Homo sapiens: one gene and its partners. The protein of the gene in region 1 interacts with the protein of each later gene in a pairwise test. Each region holds a gene or a part of one and is shown on either strand. Other genes may lie near its edges.

The links.
Region 2: the proteins of ARF4 (region 1) and RCHY1 interact in binary tests that used the Homo sapiens proteins (3 or more experiments, as listed by UniProt).
Region 3: the proteins of ARF4 (region 1) and APBA1 interact in a two-hybrid assay, tested with the Homo sapiens proteins (one study listed by BioGRID).

What each region holds. Positions count from the first base shown.
Region 1 is NC_000003.12:57,594,328-57,601,628, forward strand, and holds the start of ARF4 (ADP-ribosylation factor 4), read right to left. Parts: upstream 3,018-7,301; 5' UTR 2,814-3,017; coding exon 2,747-2,813; intron 1-2,746.
Region 2 is NC_000004.12:75,504,380-75,511,403, forward strand, and holds part of RCHY1 (RING finger and CHY zinc finger domain-containing protein 1), read right to left. Parts: intron 4,918-7,024; coding exon 4,798-4,917; intron 4,557-4,797; coding exon 4,441-4,556; intron 1-4,440. UniProt on the Homo sapiens protein: E3 ubiquitin-protein ligase that mediates ubiquitination of target proteins, including p53/TP53, TP73, HDAC1 and CDKN1B. Mediates ubiquitination and degradation of p53/TP53; preferentially acts on tetrameric p53/TP53.
Region 3 is NC_000009.12:69,669,348-69,677,303, forward strand, and holds the start of APBA1 (amyloid-beta A4 precursor protein-binding family A member 1), read right to left. Parts: upstream 3,025-7,956; 5' UTR 2,806-3,024; intron 1-2,805. UniProt on the Homo sapiens protein: Putative function in synaptic vesicle exocytosis by binding to Munc18-1, an essential component of the synaptic vesicle exocytotic machinery. May modulate processing of the amyloid-beta precursor protein (APP) and hence formation of APP-beta.

The DNA.
Region 1 (7,301 bases):
TCCTCCCAACCTGGCCTCCCAAAGTGCTGGGATAATAGGCGTGAGCCACCACACCTGGCCAGAAGCTATTGCTTCCTAACTCGAGCAGTATGGGCAATATCATCACTTGCATAACTTACCCTTATAACTAGTACATAATTTCTGTCAATCAATAGTTCAGATGATGTTAAATTTGATACACTGTGTTGGTTTTTTAATTACAGTTAACTACAAGCTAACTTCCAATATCTTTTAAAGTTACTTGAACTTTTGAAGAACAGCAGGTGTACGAATTAAATTTAAAACTTCTCCATAGTAGTTTGGCAAACCTGACACATCAGCTAACTGCTATCTCCTTTATACTTTAAAATGGTAAAGTCTGAATAAAACACTGACTCAGGAGGGCATGAATCTTATCTAAGCTTTATAAAGAAAAACGAAGCACACTAATGTAAAACATTAATAATTCCAACAGTTGAATGGGGCAGACACTTTAAAAGTGATCTATTATTTTTGCTGTCAGTCACTCATAAAGCCAGACAGAAAAATGTAAGAATTATCAAACTTCCAAACCACCTTTTTCCCTGTTCATGCACATATCTCCCTCGTACGTTGATACTTCCTTTGATGAGTTACCATAAATGTCGATCTTGTGACTGAAGTGTTTTTTAGTCAAGGAAAACTGATTATCCCAAAATTAAAGTGCAAAACGATAGCATGCCTGAGTAATAAAACATTAAAAACAAGTAACTCCTAAATCCTCCACACAAATGCAGAAACTTAAATATTTTTTCTCTCCCATTTTCTTCGAATCATTTTTTGGGGTGGAGGGAAATGCCTCCCAATATAGTAAATATATGAAAATGCTGGTAGCATACTTCTATATTCCTTGCCCCTCTGATACTTTCATCAATCACAAAAGACTAAGGAATTGAAAAATAGCAATTCATTTACAATAAATCTTAAGTAAAAAGACCAATATACTATGTGTTCTGGAACATAACCATATATTGTTAAATCTCTTTAACGAACAGACTGGAAATTCATTTATCACAGTCCGAAGTCCTCCCATTAACTTCCGATCCTTTTTCAGACTGCCAACTTTCAGCCACTGAAAACTTAAATATGCTTGCCCTCCTAAAATAATTCTGTCCTCTTGACAAAGGAAATCTAAGAAACTTTGAAAGAAAAAATACTTTATGAATGACTCATAAACAATTGATTCACAAAGTGTAAGTACGCTAAGAGGAAAATAAACATGAGCCAATGTATATACTGTTACTCTTTATATACCTTGAAATATTACAGAAGCTTGTGTTTGCAAGTTTTGATGGTAGTACAGCTCTAAAATAAAACCTCCGGCCGGGCGCGGTGGCTCACGCCTGTAATCCCAGCACTCTGGGAAGCCTGGGTGGGTGGATCACCTGAGGTGAGGAGTTCGAGACCAGACTGGCCAACGTGGTGAAACCCCCGTCTCTACTAATAATACAAAAAATTAGCCAGGCGTGGTGTTGCATGCCTGTAATCCCAGCTACTCGGGAGGCTGAGGCAGGAGAATCTCTTGAACCCGGGAGGTGGAGGTTGCAGTGAGCCGAGATTGCGCCACTGCACTCCAGCCTGGGTGACAAGAGCAAAACTCCGTCTGCAAAAAAAAAAAAGGAAGAGAAAAATAAAACCTCCTCCGGTAGAAAACAAGCTAATGAACCAACAAGTTTCAACGTTCAAAGTTAGAGGGGCTTCTTTCAGCGTTATTCTAGTCCATGGAGCTCAGCTGTGATGTAGACTGCTTACAGTAACCGGGAGCGGTTGCTTACTTCAGCCAACTGACAGCCCTTCTCCCTCAGCTGAGCAAAAACACGCCCCCTAAAAAGTAGTTTTTAAAAAGTCAACTTTCTAAAAAGAAATTTTAAAAAAATTGTAGTTACTATTTAACAAGACTACCATAAAATTCAGCGTCATGATGTTCAGTTACTTGAAAATTTATCAGGTATTTTTTAAAAATTCGTTTCTAAAATTTTTTTGCATTAGACCTTAGACCGCCTAAAAATAAGCTTAAAAACCTAGGAGAATAAACCAAACACATTTAAAGTTTTTGAAAATAGTCAAAGAAATAGAAGATAAGCTCAGTTTTCGGAGAATGAGATTAACAAGGAGCGAAAAACTTGAAACGGAATCCAGCGCAAGGCCAAGTTTAGCAAAGTGAGCGCTGAAGGACTCCAGACTCTTCGGAAACCTTGGGTGCTCCCTGGCCACCGCAACTTCCTGCCCCGGGCGGCTCCAGGCTCCGGGTGGCCGCTGGCTTACATACCAATGGAGTATGCAGGGACTGTACACGAAACGCAGAAGGGGAGGGAAAAGGCTGGAGTTGCTCTGCCTCCCTCCTGACCGCTGTCCACACCCGGGCAAGAAGGTATGCAGATCGCACCCCCAGAAAGGGCCTCGCCAAGTGTTTGCTTCCCAGAGTTGGCTTTCCCCACATCTCTGCCCAATGTTGTCCAGCTTTCAATAAGATCAAGGAGAAAAAGCCGAGTCCAGAAAGAAATCTTGCCCGAAGCCCTGTCCCTGTCTCGTCTGGCGACAGATCGGGGGCGGGGGGGATCGCTCACCCTCCGCTCCATTGTTCCCCCTTAAGAATTCCTTCCGACCCCCGACCCGGCGCCCCTCCCCCACCACAGCGGGCGGAGGAAAAAAACAGGCCCAGAGGCCACCCCAATTGTGGAGACCCTGCCTTTCCCAGGTCCCGCCTGACTCGCAGCCCCTCACTCACCCATCAAAATGCGCATCTGCTTCTTGCCAAATAGTCGGGAGAAGAGGGAGGAGATAGTGAGGCCCATGGCGGTAGTGGCACTTGTGATGGGCAGAAGCAGAAGGGGTTTGGGGCGACCCCGTGCTTTCTCCTTTCAAGCTCCCAGGCAAACTAAACGAGAGGGAAGAGAAAGAGCGGAGGAAGAAAGAGGGAGGCAGAAACGTCTCAGTGGCCCCTGTGCCGATGAAGATCCGGCACAGGAATAAGCCGGTAGAGGACCTGCTAGGCGACTGGCGCGGCAGCTCCGGCTCTAGCCTTTAGGCTCTGGCTGTGCCACGTCACGCGGCGGCCGCGGCGACTCCAGCAGCGGCCCGGCCCCTCCAACGCGGACAGAATCGCGTCACCGCCGCCCCATCCCCCTGCGCTTCCGGTGCGCCCGAGCCACTGCGCTTGCGCCTGCAGGGGATTGGCCAGTTTCGCTGACGAGCATCTCTCGACGGCGCCACCGCCCGGACGTGGCCCCAGGAGCCGGGAGAGGCCGGCTGAGGCACATGCGTACTGGGAGACGGACAAAGTCCCACAATACCTCGCTTCGTCACTGCCAAATCAGACTCAGGGTGAGACGCTTCCGCCCGGATGAAGGTATTGTCGGGGTGATAGTCCTTGCTTCCGGAAAGGCGAGCTGAGCATTATGGGTTAGGTGAGGAACCTCGCCCTCTTCTATTACGGTACGCGCGATGGGTATTCCCTGATGCCATGAACTTACACGTTTCACACACGGGACCAGACGCTTGCTTTAGTTGACGCATGAAGACCGGTCCGGTCTTTTGCGGAGAAAAGTGGTTAAAAGCTGACTTGTGGGCCGAGAAACTGTGGCACCCTAATGAGCTAGGGCTAGACGCTTCGACCACCACGCCAAGTGATTCTGAAGATCTCTAATTCTGTCAAGGCGAGAGCGCTCCAACACGTGTTCATCGGCTGTTGCTTTTTAAAGAGAAGGCAAGGAGGAAGTCTTGCTTTTCTTGTACTTTTTTTCCTAGAAGCAGCATTAAAGATTTACTCCTTATGTTGAGGAAGCGGAAAGCCTCTTCACTTTAAAAGTGTTTATGATCGGGCCTGGCGCGGTGACTCACCGCGCCCGGCCTGCTACACCTTTTAAAATTCACAGCAATGATAAATGTATTAGACTCATTGCCAGGATAAAGATTTAATCTATTTTTCTAGTAGTGCCGTCCTATGTGGTTCTGTAGTTGCTTATTCCAACTGGTATATTTCCATAGGATGGGGTTGAATAAGAAAAACTTGCAAACTTTCAGAAACAGTAAGTTATTTTTATATTTTTGAAGGCTTGCTGAGTAACGCTTCTCTTGGTAGCACTACCTTATCTACCCTTCAGAGACTGTTATTTCTTAGGAGTGGCCCTGGGCAATTAAAAGCAAAAACTTCTGGCCGGGCATAGTGGCTCATGCCTGTAATCCCAGCACTTTGGGAGGCCGAGGCGGGCAGATTACGAGGTCAGGAGATCGAGACCATCCTGGCTAACACGGTGAAACCCAGTCTCTACTAAAAATAGAATAAATTAACCGGGCGTGGTGGCGGGTGCCTATACTCCCAGCTACTCCGGAGGCTGAGGCAGAAGAATGGCGTGAACCCGGGAGGCGGAGGTTGCAGTGAGCGGAGATCGCGCCCCTGCACTCCAGCCTGGGCGACAGAGCGAGACTGTCTTAAAAAAACAAACAACAACAACAAAAAAACCCCAAAAACTTCTTTACTCAGAAGTACCCTCCTTTGCATTGGAGATACATGTAAAGAGTTGCTTAGCAGTTGAATAACTCAAAATTGCATTTTGGAAGCTTGCTAAGTGACAAGACCTTCTTGTATCCTTTTGTGAACCCCCAAAATATGAGACAGGCCTCAGTTAATTTAGAAAGTTAATTTTGCCAAAGTTGAGGACACGCGTCCATGACATAGCCTCAGGAGGTCTTGTAGACATGTGCCCAAGGTGATCAGAGCACGGTTTGGTTTTATACATTCTAGGGAGAAATGAGACATCAATCAATATATGTAAGATGAACATTGGTTCATTCTGGAAAGACTGGACAACTCAAAGCAAAGGCAGGAAGACTCTGAGTGGGGAGGGAGCTTCCAGGGCATAGATAGATAAGAGACAAATGGTTGCATTCCTTTGAGTTTCTGATTAGCCTCTCCAAAGGAGGCAGTCAGATATGCGTTTATCTCAGTGAGCAGAGGGGTGACTTTTTAAAGAATGGGAGGCAGGTTGGCCCTAAGCAGTTCCCAGCTTGACTTTTCTCTTTAGCTTAGTGAGGTGGAGGCCCCAAGATTTATTTTCCTTTCACACTTTAGGCCTTATGTCTGTTTTTAGTTTTATATAGTAGAATTCCTTAAAACAATCTTCAACTAATTCTTAGGGTCTTCTTAAATTCAAAAGACAAACCGTATGAGCCCTCCTCCCTGTAACTTATTCCAAATCTTAATCCATGTTTTCTGTTTAGTTATGCAAAATAAATCGAAAGAATTCTGTTCTCCATCTCTAGCCTCCAAAACCTGAACCAAAACAAAAGTTGTCAAAACAGATTTTTCAGTAAGAATACACTACACATCAAGTGGCTAATGTAAATTACAAAACAGGATGTTAATGGCAGACTGTAATATCTCTATTGTACAGATAAAAATAATCAGGGTCAGAGAGATTAAATATTCTGCCCAAGGTCACACAGCTAAAAGCAGTGGAACAGCTATAAGAACCCATTTCTTCTGGTATTAACTGGTATTTACACTCTTTTTTTTTTTTTTTTTTTAATAAATAAGTGGATTCTGGCTATGTTGCCCAGGCCTGTCTGGAACTCCTGGGCCCAAGCAATCCTTCCACCTCAGCCTCCAAAGTGTTGGGATTACAGGTGTGAGCCAGTGCACCCAGCCATTAACACTCTTAACCACTACACTATACTACCTTCTTACATTTATTTATTTATTTATTTGAGACAGGGTCTCACTTTGTCACCCAAGCTGAAGTACAGTGGCATCATCTCGGCTTACTCAACCTCCTGGGATCAAGTGATCCTCCCACCTCAGCCCCCAAAGTAGCTGGGACTACAGGTACACCACCACATTGGCTAAGTAGTGTTATTTTTTGTAGAGACAGGGTTTTGCTATGTTGCCAAGGCTGGTCTCAAACTCCTGAGCTCAACCAATCTGTCTGCCTTGGCCTCCCAAAGTACTGGGATTATGGGCCTGAGCCACTGTTCCCGGCCAAATTCTTTTCTTTTCTCTTTTCTTTTTCTTTCTTTCCTTTCTTTTCTTTCTTTCTCTTTCTTTTCTTTCCTTCATCCTTCCCTCCCCTTCCTTTCCTTTCCCTTTTCCCCTCCCTTCCCCCTTCTGTTCCCTTTTCCCTTCCCTTTTCCCTCCTCTCCCTTCCCCTCCCCTCCCTTTTTCCTCCTGCCTCAGCCTCCCAAGTAGCTGGGACCACAGACATATTCCACCATGCCCAGCTATTTTATGTATTTTTGGTAGAGTTGGCGTTTTGTAGAGACCAGCATGTTGCCCAAGCTGGTATCCAGCTGCTGAGCTCAGGCGATCTACTCGCCTTGGCCTCCCAAAGTGTTGGTAGTAGAGGTGTGAGCCACCGTGCCCAGACCCCAAATTTATTTTTATTTTATTTTATTTTTCTAGGTCAGGCATGGTGGCTCACACCTGTAATCCCAGCATGTTGGGAGGCCAAGATGGGAGACTCACTTGAGCCCAGAAGTTCCAGACCAGCCTTGGCAATATAGTGAGATGCCATTTCTATTTTAAAAAATATTTTAAAAATAAAATATTTTTCTATTCACCTTTCATCAATACAAACCCAGAAGAGAATCTTTCTTATTTTTAAAAATGAGGAAATTGAGCCCTACAAGAAAAATTGCTATAGTTTATTGATCACTTGCTAAGCCATGTACTTCATTTAATCATCGCTTTTGAACACAGTGTTGTATAAAGTTGCCCAGGCTCAAAAGCATGTACTCATAACATACTACACTAGGTAGTATGTTTTCCTCATCTCTGGTTATTTTATTTTATTTTTTTTTGCTCTGTCACCTAGGCTGGAGTGCAGTGGGGCGATCTTGGCTCACTGTAGCCTCTGCCTCCTGGGTTCCAGCGATTCTCCTGTATCAGCCTCCGGGGTAGCTGGAATTACAGGCACATGCCACTGCGCCCGGCTAATTTTTGTATTTTTAGCAGAGAGGGGGTTTCACCATGTTGGCCAGGCTGGTCTCGAACTCCTGACCTAGGTGGTCCACCCACCTCGGCCTCCCAAAATGCTGGGATTACAGGTGTGAGCCACCGCGCCCAGCCTCTGACTATTTTTCTTAGTGAGATCTTTTTAGTCACAAATATGTATATGGAATTTACATTCCAGTCCCTTGGGTTTAATAATGTACAGACAGCAGACCCCCTGTATCTTCAGGTTTCAAACCCACAGATTCAGCCAATAGCAGATGTGGAACCTGCAGATGCAGAATGGCAACTGTAAGGGCCTTGAGCATCTGCAGATTTTGGTATCACGGGGATCCTG
Region 2 (7,024 bases), on another chromosome or scaffold:
TTCAGCCTACTCAACATGAAGAAGGATGAAGACCTTTATGATGATCCATTTCCACTTAATGAACAGTTAACATATTTTCTCCTTATGATTGTCCTAATATTTTTCTCTAGTTTATCCTAAGAATATAGTATATAATACATATAACATACAAAATATGTATTAATTGGCTATTTGTGTTATTGATAAGACTTCCAGTCAGTAGCAGGCTATTAGTAGTTAAGTTGTGGGGAGTTGAAAGTTATACTCAGATTTTCAACTGAGCTGGCACTTGGTGCCCTTAACCCCCAACATTGTTCAAGGGTCAAAAGCAGTTACAGAGGACACTGACATATTTGAGCACACATTATCTTCAACTTGGAATACATGGAATTAAAATTTGGGTTTGCAGTGTTCAAATTCTTAGTAAAATTTCCAGTGAAGTTAATTTTCACTATCCTTTATTCTTTCGTCTGCACATTATTCACAAAAGGGCTTTAAAATATTTTTTAAAGTAAAAAGAATCCATTATACTTAAATGGTAAATGGCGATGACTAATTTTTCTAGTATATTCAGGGTTATCATAATACTGAAAACACTGCCAAAGATATACTGCCTACACATTACTGTGCACCTACTGTATATACGGCAGCGGTCACCAACCTTTCTGGCACCAGGGACTGGTTTCATGGAAGACAATTTTTCCATGGACCGAGGTTGGGGGATGGTTTCGGGATGAAACTGTTCCACCTCAGATAATCAGGTATTAGATTCTCATAAGGAGTACACAACCTAGATCCCTTGAATGCACAGTTCACAATAGGGTTTGTGCTCCTATGAGAATCTAATGCTACTACTGATGTGACAGGAGGCAGAGCTCAGACAGTAATGGTCGATCACCCACCACTCACCCTGCACTGGGCGCAGCTCAGTTCCTAACAGGCCATGCACCAGAATCCGCACCCCAAGCACTGGGGACCCTGATATAAGGCACTCCCAGGTATAGAAATTTAAAATATGAAAATACCATGATCTCATGAAGTTTAATATTTACCATGTAGCATGAGATGTGTACTTTGCAGTAACAATAACTTGAATGTCAATAAATCAACCAATAAAAGAGGGTATGATTTTCTTGGTTGTGTGTGGTAATTAGAAGCTATGTGTAGATATGATATACAAAATAACACTACAAAAGTGAAAATGAATTAGAGTTAATCAAATAGGATGAATCTTAGAAACAGAGCTCAGTAAAAAAACAAAAAGAAAAAAAGGCCATATATATGATTTTTAAAATAAGCAAAATGAAACATATATTGTAACTTCTACTTCCACAATGACGAAATAGCTTCTATAGGACTAAAACTCCTACTGAGAACTAGAAAAACTCAATTTAAAGAAAACAAACAAGCTGTTTAAAAGTAGTAAAGAGCAACTGAGTGCTTGAAGGGCAAAGATCTCAGAGAGAAAGCAAATATACTGAGGCAAAGTCAATAGTCTCTACTTCTTTCTTCCTTGGGAGATTTTTAGACCCTAAACTGTGCTGTGACAAGCTAAGAAACTAAACAGAGAGCAACAGGTAAGAGCCTAAGAAACTAAGTAAACCCTCTGAAAGTACTCCTATGCTAGGGGGCCAAAATTTGGAGTCCAGATTCCACCACGAAAGAGATGGGCCTGGTAAACAACCCTAGCTTTAAGTCAAGATCTCCAAGGGACTATGTCCTAGGAGCATAAGAATAAAGGGAGGAAAAAAAAAAAATAGAACAGGACATACAAAAAAAAAAAAAACAAAAATTAGTCTCTAATCATATCAATGCTAAATTGGATTAAGGTTATCCATCCCTACATTAACTGCCTTCTGAAAGAAAATTAAATTCTCTCTGAAAAAAAAATAGCATCGAGAGCTTAATAAATTTTTACATATTATGTCCAACAATCAACTAAAAAAAAAAATCAAGCATGTCAAAAGGCAGAACCAAACACCAAGGGAGAAAAAACAGAAAACAAAATTTACCCATAGATAATCAAGATATTGGAGTTATTAGGCACAGTCCTTTAAATCATCTGTGATCAATACATTCAAAGAAAAAAAAGGTAAAGAATTTCACCTGACAACTAGAAAATAACAAGAATGAAGATAAAATATAAATTTTATAACTTAAATAAATAGATAACTTGGTAGGCTTAAAAGCAGATTCAATGCAGCAGAAGAGAGACCTGGAAGTTAATCTGTGGAAAGTATCCAATTTAAGCATAAAGAAAATCAAAGTAGGAGAAATACAGGAAAAAAAAAAAGAGACATGGGATGTAGTAAAAAGATCTATGGGATGGAGTCTCAGAAGAGGTGGGAAAACGGTACAGAAACATTATCTGAAGAGAAACTGGCCAAAAATATTTCAAAATTGACAGAAGACATCAAGCCACAGATTCAACAAATGCTACAAACCCCAAGCCAGATAAATATTACACTCAATCAAACCTGGACACACGGAAAAAATACTAACAACCAATGACTTAAAAAACAGCGAGAGGAGGATAAAAGACATTTTAACTTCAAAGAAGCAATAATAATCCTGAGAAATGATATTTTTAAACAGAAACCATGGAATCAGAATATCTTTAAAGTGTTGGGAGGTCAGGGGAACCAATACCTGTAAACTTAGAATTCTACACCCAGCAAAAATATTCAAAAATGGAGGCAAAAAAAAGACATTTTTCAGAGACAAAAAAAACTGAGAGAATGTATCATCAGCAGGACCTCACTAAAAGAAACACTAAAGACAATTCTTTAAGCAGAAGAAAAGTAACTCCAAAGATAATGCTGGAGACCTACAGGAAAGAAGGGCAATAGAAACGGTAAATATATAACAACAATAGCATATAAAGACTCTTAGTGTTTAAGGTCCTAATATTGTCCAAGAAGTGATAAACATATTATTCTAGTAAGCCAATGATGTATGTTATAATTTCTAGGATAACCACTAAGAAAATAATTGAAAAATGTATAACTAACAAGCCTATAGAGAATAAAAGCAAATAGGAAAGCAACAGATTAATCCAAAGAAGACAAGAAAGGAGAGGAAAAAAGACAAATACTAAGGCAATAGAAACTACCAAAACTGTAGATTGAAACACGAACATATCCTAACTACCTTAATAAAAAACGAACTATATACTCCAATTAAAAGACAGTTTTATCAAACTGGATTGAAAAATTAAAATTCAACTATATGCTGTTTTACAAGACACATGACTTAAATGTAAGTATACAAAAATGTCTAAATGGAAAAGGATATACATGCAAAAACTCATCGAAAGAAAGCTGATATAGATACAGTAGAGCCTAGGGCAGGAAACATTACTAAAGATAAAAAGACACATTATATAATAATAAATGGGTCAATCATACAGGAAAATGTAATAATTTTAAGTATGTGACCGCTGAAAGACATGGCCTTAAAACATACAAAACAAAACACAAAAGAGCATATACTATATGATTCCATTCATTAAAAACTTCCAAAAGTCAGCATACTGGTTACCTTTGGGGAAGTGTATTAATTTGGAGGGGGCACACAGGAAGCTATGAAGGTGCTATGAATGTTGTGTTTCTTGATCTGGGTAGTGGTTACAAAGGCATGTTCATTTGTTAAAATTCATAAAATCATTTGCTTATAATTTCTGTTATCTTTTGGTAGGTTGGTTATCCTTCCTTAAAAACAAACTATATTTTAAAAAAACAAAAAAAACAAAAAAAAAGCAAGAAAGTGATTTAAAATATTCAAGACAGTGATTACCTCCAGCAGGGACAAGAAGAAAGGACTGAACACGGAACACCTTGGGCTTTGACAGTATTGGTAACATTCCTTTCCTAAACTCGGTGGCTTATTCACTGTACTGTACTTTAGACACACTTTACATACATGCTTTAATATACATCTAAAATACTCGAGATTTTTAAGAAAGAAAATAATTCCTTATACACCGACATGTCAACAGTAGCTTGTCTGTGGTTAGGCTCTGGTTATTTTATTTTTATTATTTCTACTTTTCTGTTTTTTCCAATTTTTATAAAATCACCTGTATTTCTTGATAATTTTTTAAATACTAATTTTTACAAAGGAAAAATTTATCCCAATTCTCTACCTCAGTTGCCCATAAAACACTTTATATAAAACATATTTTATAATCCAAAGGTAAAATTCTAAATAGTTATACAATAATTGATGGGTAAATTAAATTATTAACAAATTATGAATAAACTTTTTAGAATGGATATGTTCTATAGCTTGATTGTGCTGATAGTAAAAGAGATACCGGTATTTATCAAAACTCACTTAATTGGACACTTAAAATGAATGTATCTTATCAGATGTAAATTACACCTTAATAAAGTTGATTTTAAAAACTATTATTGCATATACATTAGAAGCAATTAGATAAGAACACTTTACATACAGTACCTACAAATTCCACAGTTTTCACAGTGATACTGCTTCTTATCTTTGTCAAACAAATGGCATATATCGCAATAATATTCTCCAAACAATGTGCTACATTCTTCACAAGTCTGTTGGGCCTAAAAAAGAAACATAATTAAAAACTGCAATAAACTAAACATTTTGAGTTACCATTTGAATATCTAGAACTTATGTTCAACTATATGCAGTTTATTTTTATAAGTTTTGAAACACCTAAACCAAAGATATTGCTTATTCTAGAAGTTAAAGAAATCTTATTTATGATACTTTTGATTAAATTTTTTCAAACCACCTTAATACAGCTTTTAAAAAGAAAATAGAAATGTCATAAAATCTTACATGTTGAATTTTTTCACAGTTTATGCACTGCACTTCCTTCACTTTAAAGCGATCTAGTTGATGATCTTCATTGTTATCATGACACAAGCGGCAAGTATAAAGCTTGTCACAGCAAGGTGCCTAACACCCACGGAGAAAAAAGAGATATAGTAAGAAGCAAAAGAAACTAAGTGTGCAATACAAAAAGAAAATTTCTTCCTCCTCCTCCTGGATGGAACTGAAAGATTACAACCAATAGATCAGTTGCTAAACTGATCCTAAACATAACATTTCACTAGTTTCTTGGCATATTTTATGTTAATTCTTCCCTTCAACATCACTACGTCTGTATGAAGTTGAACACAACTTTAAAACAAAAGAATTATGAAGGAAATCCCTAGATTGAAACACTAATCCCACAACACCTGATATGCTTTGGCTGTGTTCCCACCCAAATCTCAACTTGAAATGTATCTCCCAGAATTCCCACGTGTTGTGGGAGGGACTTAGAAGGAGGTAACTGAATCATGGGGGCCAGACTCTCCCGTGCCATTCTCGTGATAATGAATAAAATCTCATGAGATCTGATGGGTTTATCAGGAGTTTCCACTTTTGCTTCTTCCTCATTTTCTATTGCCACCACCATGTAAGAAGTGCCTTTTGTCTCCCGCCATGATTCTCAGGCCTCCCTAGCCATGTGGAACTGTAAGTCCAATTAAACCTCTTTTTCTTCCCAGTCTTGGGTATGTCTTTATCAGCAGTGTGAAAACAGACTAATATAACACCCCAATTTCATTCTGAGCCTAAACAGCAAACAGGCAACCTCTTCTTAGACATTTCCAGATAAATTCATTTACATTAAAAATAATAAAGATTATATTCTTATTTTACTAGCTTTTATTAATCATCAACCTCATATCTAATATTGCACAAAATGCAACAAATGTAAGAGACAGCCCTTGTTTTCAAACACGGCAAAGACTGCCAGTTGTCCACCAAAATCTATCCTCTCCTTCCTGGGCACAATTGTTCAGCTATATCAGACAGATGGCCACATGCCCTAAAACATGACAAAATGATACAACAGAAAAATCTCATCCCTGGAGTGACCATGTGGAGCAAAGCCTCATCACCAACCTGCATCACTCGCCTTGGAATTGTTAAATGGAAAGAAATAAAACCTTTACTCTTTAATCTACATCACTGTTGGGTTTTTTCATTACAGCAACTTTACCATTACAAGTATATCAAGAGATTTCCAGGCCAGTGACTTTCCAATACACTGTGACCTTGCAGATCCACTCATTTCTGAAGGCTTCCTATGCCTTGACTTACCATAACGTAGTTCATTCCTTAAAGATTTTAACACTTAACTGGCTTCCTTTTTCTGCAACTCTCAGTTCCTTAACTTTGTCATTTCCAATAACCTTGTCCTCCAACCCACTATTCTCATAGTTATACCGCAGAACAGTAGTTCTCAAATGGTTTGGTCTCAGGATCCCTTCACACTTTTTAAAATTACTGAGAATCCCAAAGAGCTTTGGTTTATGTGGATTTTATCTATTGACATATACCACATCATAAATTAAAAAGAATAGGTTTTTAAAATATTACTTCTTTTTAAAAGTAACAAACTCATTACTTGTTAACATAAATAACATGTTTTAATGAAAAATAACTATATTTTTCCCCCCAAACAGCTGAATTCTTCTATCTGCTTATGCATTCAAACAGTTGTGGCTGAAGTACAAAAAGAAACTCTGGCCTCACACAAATATGTACACTGGAAAAGAAAGGAGTATTTTAATAGCCTTTTTGGAGAATTATGGATATCATTCTCTGATATTACACTAGAACAACAACTCTTAAAGGGTAGTTGCAACATGAAATCTGAAATCGTATCAAGGAATATGATTGATATGATGCCTCTTTTCTTCCTTGGTTACATTAAAATCTATTGCTCTATCTTGCACTTCAAATGGATGTTTTACTCATGCATTGGTCATCTGGAGAATACCAGTTCAGTGAGTTATTTACATCTTCTAAATGTTCACACATTTAACATGCAATATCAAAAAATCATATTCATTAAAAGTCTTTAGGTATTGAAGAAAATCTCACCAAAAAAAGTCTTTTAAAAAGCTTCCAACCTCACAAAAGCTAGTAAAAGTTTTCCAAAATTCTAATTTTTGTGTGAAAGCTTGAATTTTATCACTGGCAACAAATACTGTCATTTTCATTTGTAGTG
Region 3 (7,956 bases), on another chromosome or scaffold:
AACACAATAACAACAAAACAAAACAAAACAACAACAACAAAAAACCTTAAGAGGCTCAATAATGGAAGAGAAAAGCACTGATGCTACTTTAAGTGAAGGAAAGGCATCCATGCACAAAAAATGGCTTGCTGCAGGCCACAGCAAAAGGTACCACCATTTATTAGAGCTGTCTCATTAACCTTATACCAGTCCGATCTTTAGAAAAGCCAGATATTGCATTTTTAAAACTATCAGCCTGGGCAGCATAGCGAGACTCTATCTCTGAAAAAAATAAACAAATATCTGGGTGTGGTGCCATGTGCCTATTGTCCCAGCTACTCAGGAGGCTGAGGCAGGAGGATTGCTTGAGCTAGGAGTTTGAGGCTGCAGTGAGCTATGATCACACTACTGCACTCCAGCCTGGGCGACAGAGGAAGATCCTGTCTCAAAAAGACAAATAAAAATAAAAATGATCACATTTACATTAGAAAAGAACTGATTCCTGAGTCATCGATTTTGCTGCTGTGTAATTCCTCTTTCTCTAAACAGGGTATTTACCTGGTAATTCCTCATATTATTAAACTTTCTTGTGAGACATTTACATCCCTGGTCTTACTTGCAAATATAAAGGATGATGACTTTTTTTTAAACCAAAATCTCTTAGAATGGCTTTTAAATTCCCTAAGTACTTTTCTCAGAAAGACATTTGGCATAACAAATAAGAGAGTAAAGAACTAAGATTCAAAATTCATTTTTATAAATCTATCCTTAAATCTTGGATGACAGCCAACAACCAACCTCACATTAAAATCTTAGAAGGCTTGACTTGAAGAACATGGGGAAATTTACTTTACATAGACAGCTTCAAGAGCACCTTGTCTATATATCATTAAATAAGATACATGGGAAGAAAAAAAAGCATATGTGGATAGCCCTAGTTTTATTATTTTCACAACGATATCATGCAATCTTTGCCCATAAAAGAAAGCAAAACAAAAATTTTAAAAAAGAAAAATAAATCTCTGGTGCCAACATGTTGTATATTTACTTGTGTAGCCATGACTGCTACGGGCTTTTCGAAGAGAACCGGGCAGCCAGTTTGGATTCCGACAATGCAGTAGAATTTAAGGTGTTATGACTAAAACATGTCCTAAGCAGATTAAGCTAGTCATACAACATTTTAATAAAGAAGTGTCGAGATATTAAGTGTAAAGTGCACTCATTCCTATGAATACCGCAGGAGAAACATAGGTGAGGGGGAATCACACTGCCCTGGATACACATGAATATGCCATCTCCCTGCCTACCTCTACCCAACCCTACCTACACACACCTATCTTTACCACGCAGAGACAATTAAACAGCCATAGACTCTGGATGCATTTCTGTGTCCTTGTTCCCACTGGGTGAGTTGTTGCCAGCCTGACATTTTTCCAAATTCCCTACTAGTGGGCTCTATCAGGTAGGAAAGCAGGGACTTTACTGACCTGGGACCCCATCGCTGTGGGTCTCAGGAGATTTCAGTTTCCAAATGATACACGGCACCACCTAGCTATTGTGACAGCTGGGAGAGTGGATGTCACCAGCAGTAGAAATAAAGTATCCTGTTTCCTGAGGAAAACGCCCTGGCTGTGTGATGCTGACCAAGTGGGCACCAAACATTTCTCCGTGTGATATTTTTCTTCTTTTTAAAAGACCGCCCCCCGCCCCACCGCATCTCTCTATACGTATACACCTCCAGAGTTCATTCTAAAAGAACCAACACAAAGACCATCCATCCTCTAGCCATAAGGTTTTCAGTGCTTAAATGTGGAAGGAGAAGGTCTAGCTAGCATTGAAAGTTGTGGGGACAGGAAGAGGAATCTGATCATTCAACATCCTTCTCCTTCTGGTCAGACAAGAGAAAAACAATAGAAACTGCACAGTCAGGGAGTACAAGACCCTTATGGAACAGGTGCTAAGGAGAGAAGTAGTATCACAGGATGGAAGGCCCCTTCAAAACCAGGTACATTAGCAAGCCCAGAATGTGTAACGGTTATCCTATTTCCCTGCCATGTGCCTCAAAGCAACATGCTCACTTCCACATCCCCATGTCATGAGGCCAGAGGAAGGGGAAGCGAGAATCCCTACACTGGGCCATCCACACGCAGGAGCAGAACAGACACTGTGCTCAGAGTTGCAGGGTCAAAATAACAAACACTGTCCCACAGTCTTAGCCGGTGACATCAAGTAAGGGCAGCGGCAGATCTCTGGATTTGGGGCGCAGTTTGGGGAACGTGGATGCAACCACACGCGTACACACACATATACAGGATTTTACAAACCGGCCCCTATCCCACTGCCTCCCTCCACACTTCACACACCAAGTGCATCCTGCCCACCTCACCGTTTCCATCATCACATTCTTTCTCCAGGAGAGTCAGCCGAGAGATGAGGGGGTCCTAGCGGGGATTCCTGGAAATGTCACCCCCCAACACCTCCGTCCGCCACCCCATCCCCTCTGCTGTACCTTTTACACACACACTCTCACACACTCACTCCTGCCATGACTGTCATCAGGCCCGCCTGCTGCGCCCGAAGCCCGGCATCTCAGCGGGCACCGGACCCCAGGCGTCTCGCTCGCAACGCCGCCTTCCCCCGCCTCGCTAGCTGATGGTTCCAGGCACTGCCTCCTGGATGTCGCCTGCTGCCTCCGCTCCTCCGCACTATTGTTCCAGGCAGCCCCTCTCGCGTCCGGGGGCGCCCTTTGGCGAGGACCCGGGCTCCGTCGGGGGCCGCATCAGCGCCGGGCACCCCTTCTCACCCACCCCTCCCTGGCTGTGGTACCTTGCCTGACAGCTGGGTCCGCGGGCCCGCGGGAGCAGGCGGCGCTAGTGACAGCGCTGGTGCCAAGCCTGGGAATAAAGCTCCGCTCCAGCCGCTGCTGCCTCCAGCGCCACCATCTTCTCCCGCCGCAGCTGCCGCCGCCGCCGCCGCCGCCGGGACCGCAGCCGCCCTCGCCCAGCTCCGGCTCCGCAGCCGCTGCTCGGACCCCTCCGGTCTCGCGGCCCCACCCCCTTTCCCCACCCTCCCTCCCGCCCTCCAGCTAGCTCGCTGGCCCCTCGTGACGCGCGCTGGGGCCGGGCGGGCCTGCGAGGGAGGGCGCGGGGGAGCGCGCGCGCGCACGCCGCCTGCTAGTAGCGCCCCTGCCTCCCTCGCCCACTCGCGTGCGCGCGCGGCCCGCGAGCCCGCGGCGGCGGCGGCGGCACCGCTGATGTCCTCCGTGGGCCGCCGGCTGCAGCGCCCCTGCCCCGGCGCCGGTGGGCGTGCGGCACACCCGCGCCTCTCGCCTTCCCTCGCGTCCGGGTTCCGAAGGGCCCGCCCTGCCTTTCGGAATGGGTTCCACAGCCCCATCCTCTGGCTCCCGGCCGGACGCAAGGAGGGGAAAATGCAGCTGCATCCCCGAGGGGACTGACGGGGGCCTCCACCCTCCTCGGTGGCAACCCAGGTGGTCCCCAGTTTCCTAGCCAGCAGCTGTGGCCAACCTCTGCGCGAAGCAACGGGCCACGCTGCAGGACCACGAAGCCAGGCAGCCGCGTCGACTCCTGCAGGGTGTTCTCTCCGGAGTGACTCCCGAGCTTTCCCGCTTCCCAGGCCCCTTAGATATCGCCTGCGCTTCAAATTCGGAGATTGACGGCGTCTCCGGAATGCGTCGCAGTCCTGCGAGTTCTCCGCCAGGGGGAGAGCCGCGCGGGCTTGGGCCTGAGCGAAGACAGCCGGGCTGCAGCCCTCCAGGGGAACTGCCGAGTCCCGCCGGGGACAGCGGAGAGCCTGCGGATTGTGAAGCCGAGGAAGGCTCGGCTTGGTTTTCCTACCCGCTCCTCAGTTCTGGTTGATCGGAACTTAAGTGTCTTTGAGCCTAGCACAGGCCATCCGCCCTAGATATGGCTCCTAACTCGAGAGGCCACCCTTTGCGGCAGGGACCAGGTGGCAAGTGCTGTGCATTAATGAAAAGCTGTGGGCTAGACAGGCCCCGGGAGGCCTGGGCTCTGGCGCCAGCCCCACCTGTAATTGGCAATGCAATAGCTAAATCATTCCCCCTCTTAGAAACACAGATTTTTCCATAATAATGTTATAATGCACAAAGCCTTGTAGTTTGCAAAGCCCTCTCCGCACATGTATTCTCCAGTAAAATGAAGATAAGCGCTGGTTATCCAGATCCCTTGGGAAATGGATCTTTTACCACACCGTGTTTCCATATTATTTTAAGCACGTCTCTAGAGAAGTCTGGGGGTGTAGCCTAAAGCATTCTGAAAGTCTTGTTTTAGCTTTAAAATTCATATGAATTTTGCATTGTACTTTGTAATTTTTTTTTGCTTTAATAAAACAATAGCTACCTTCTCAAAAAGATTTTAGTAAAATTTAAAATTATATACTAGGAAGATGTCTGCTTGTCCTGTGACATTACTCATATTTTTTCCGGTGAATACTTATTTGGCATATGTACGAGCCAGACATGGTCCTTTTCCACCAGAGCTCACAGTACGCTGAAGGAAATAGGTATTCAACTATCAGACTGGCCAGGCGCGGTGGCTCACGCCTGTAATCCCAGCACTTTGGGAGGCTGAGTCCAGCAGATCACTTTAGGCCAAAAGTTTGAGATCAGCCTGGTCAACATGGCGAAACCCTGTCTCTACTAAAAACACAAAAATTAGCCGGGCGTGTTGGTGCACGCCTGTAATCCTAGCTACTCGGGAAGCTGAGGCACGAGAATGCTTGAACCGGGAGGCGGAGGTTGCAGTGAGCCGAGATCGCGCTACTGCACTCCAGCCTTGGTGTCTCAAAAAACAAACAAACAAATAAAACAATCAGACTAAGTGCAACTGTGATAAATTCTCAACTGCAAAGGCGCTAAGGTGCACGGGAAAACCTAATGTGGACTCTGGGACTAGGTAAGGCTTTCTAAGGAAATGACATTTCAGATCCCCCAGGAGAGGCAGCATTGAGACACTTCCAGGTAAAGGGAAGGAAATGTGAAAAGGCCCAAGCAGGTGGGGCCGAAGTGAGATGAGACTGGAGAGGCAGGCAGACTTTGTGGACCGTTTTTAAATAATGATTTTGTCTTATGAGCCTGGAAAGTCAATGAAGGGTTGCCAAGAGTTGGGAGCAGGCAAGCAGGATCACATTTCCGTTCCTGAAAGATGGCTGAGGTGGTTTGTGAGGAACTGATTCGTGGAGGGTCAGGATCCAGGGCGGAGAGAGTCTGAGCTTATCCTACTTAGTGAGTGTTTAGGGTTTTCTGTTTTTGCACTAACTGCTCTTTTGATTGTTTTTAGTTCTTGCCTCTGCTCTCCTGTGTACGCATCTAGGAGGCTTTCAGAGTGCTTCTCTGTAATAGTTTCTGTTTTGTTACTTTTAATCCACTGCAGTTTTAGGAAGGAAATGAACCCTGTTAGAATTTCAGGTTAAATAAGAGAATATAGGTTCTGAGTGAGAGGCTCTTTTCTGTGCATACACTTATTGCCATTTGGTTTGCTATCTCAGAGATCTTTCTGCTTATTTTCTACTTTTTGTGTTGCCTTTCCAGTTAGACTAGGTTCTTAGATGCATGAATAAGGGTTACATTATTGCTTTAATAATATCCTGGAATCTTACCTCGCAGGATTTTTGTGTAAAGAAAGTTATGTGAAATTTCTCTGCAAAGTATTCAGTGCCATATAAAGAAAGGTAATAATTGTTAGTTATAATGGTAGCTTAGAGACCTCCAAAACTAATTACTTACCAAATGTTCATATGTGGAAATTTCCCTCCCTCCCCCACCCCCATGAAAAACACATATTCCTATTTCTTCTGGATAGCATGAATCATTGTCTTAAGTGCTCTTGTTACTCTGTGCCTTCGCTGGCAGGAAACTCAAAGCCAAATTTTCAGATCATTGTAGGAAATGAGTGGATCCATATGGCATGTAGATCCATGTCTTAATCCCTCCTTTGGTCTTGTTCTATTCTATTTATAGATTTCCTGTGCCTGCTTTATTGATGTTTTTCTTTTTAGTAGATCTCTTATAAGGCACTCCAATCCACCACTCCAATCCACCTTCTCCTGTTAACAGGGTCGAAACTGCTATTCAAGTGTTTCAGGAAGCAGTATATAAAATACTGGCAGCCAGGCATGGTGGCTCATGCCTGTAATCCCAGCACTTTGGGAGGCCAACGTGGGAGGATTGCTGGGGAGTTCAAGACCAGCTTGGGCAACATAGTAAGACCCCCGTCTCTCAAAAAAAAAAAAAAATTAGTGGGCATGGTGGCGAATTCCTGCAGTCCTAGCTACTTGGGAGGCTGAGATGGGAGGATTGCTTTAATCCAGGAGGTTGAGGCTGCAGTAAGCTATAATTGTGCCATAGCATTTCTGCCTGGGTGATAGAGCAAGACCATGTCACTAAAAATAAAACACTGGCAACCTGCCAACCATTGAAGCAGGTAACAATAGTATAGACACTGTGCCAAGTGACTTGGGTTTAAAGTAAAGCCTTAACCACCACTGCATGTGCACCTAAAGTCTCCGTGCATGCCAGTATAAAACCTCATATTATTGGCAAACTTAAGTATGTCTCCCAATGGCTCATAGATAATCTCCTTTAGTTTAATCTCTGAGGTCCCAAACTCCATCAGCCTACACTATACCAATACAGACGGTTCCTGTCTTATGATGGTTCGACTTAGAAGTTTTTGACCTTACTTTTGGGCTTATCAGGGTATTAATTTTTTTTTTTGTCAGTGCCTCACTCTGTTGCCCAGGCTGGAGTACAGTGGTGCAGTCTTGGGTCACTGCAACCTCTGCCTCCCGGGTTCAAGCGATTCTCCTGCCTCAGCCTCCCTAGTAGCTGGGACTATAGGCGCCCACCACCATGCCCGGCTAATTTTTGTATTTTTAGTAGAGACAGGGTTTCACCATTTTGGCCAGGCTGGTCTCAAACTCCTGACTTCAAGTGATCCACCCGCCCTGGCCTCCCAAAGTGCTGGGATTACAGGCGTGAGCCACTGTGCTTGGCCTTAAATGCATTTTTGACTTATGTAACCCCACCATAAGTCAAGGAGTATCTGTATATGTTACCGTCACAAGCACTGTTGGTCACTTGGTAAAAGGACAGAGATTCAAAAACTTTTATTCATTTAGGGTTATTTTTATCAACAAAGACTTGAAGATTCCATGATTCACTACATCCATTCAAACTCTGCAAGAGTGTGACCATATCTTCCAGCTTTTGATATGGTTCTGGATAGCTTAAATTAGACATCCTTCTTCTGACATAAGTTGATACTTTTCCTTGATTTCAAGTTCTTTAGTGATTACCCTCTTTCTGTATCAGTCCTTGAGTTTATGAGCTGAGGTTGTATGTAAGACAAGCATAGAACAACCTTCGGTAATCTGGTTTCTCTTGAGGATTTCAGTTCTGCTAATATTTAATAATCCAGCATAATTCCTAACATATTGTATAGCCTTTTTGGTCACAGGATTTAAAGTGTATGAAAGAAATACACAATTATGACATGTATGTATCATAAACTTCAATAAATTTGCTTGTATATACAGATGCTTATTTCACCAGCTTTTTCTCTGGGCATGAAATCTGTCCAGAGAAATAATGCCCTTCTTTTCTTTTTTATTCTGCAAACAAGGTCAGGCTCCTTCTCTTTTTCTCCCACTGTGCCCTTTAATGAGTCCAACCAGAATTTTGTACTATGTGTTTATCTGATACATTGGAAGACATTCTGGTGCCCCATATGGTAATTCTACCTCTGAAAATGAAGTTTTTGAGTAAATAATGTCATGGGAACATATTGACTTTTAAAAATGGTTGTAATCCCATTCTCTGAACCATACTCCATGGCCAGGGGCTTGGGTTACACTGACTAACTTAAACCAATCAGCTCCCAGTCCTGGAGCTGGGTCAATCCTCCCCAAACCACATGGCTGATTGAGGATAGAGCAAGATCT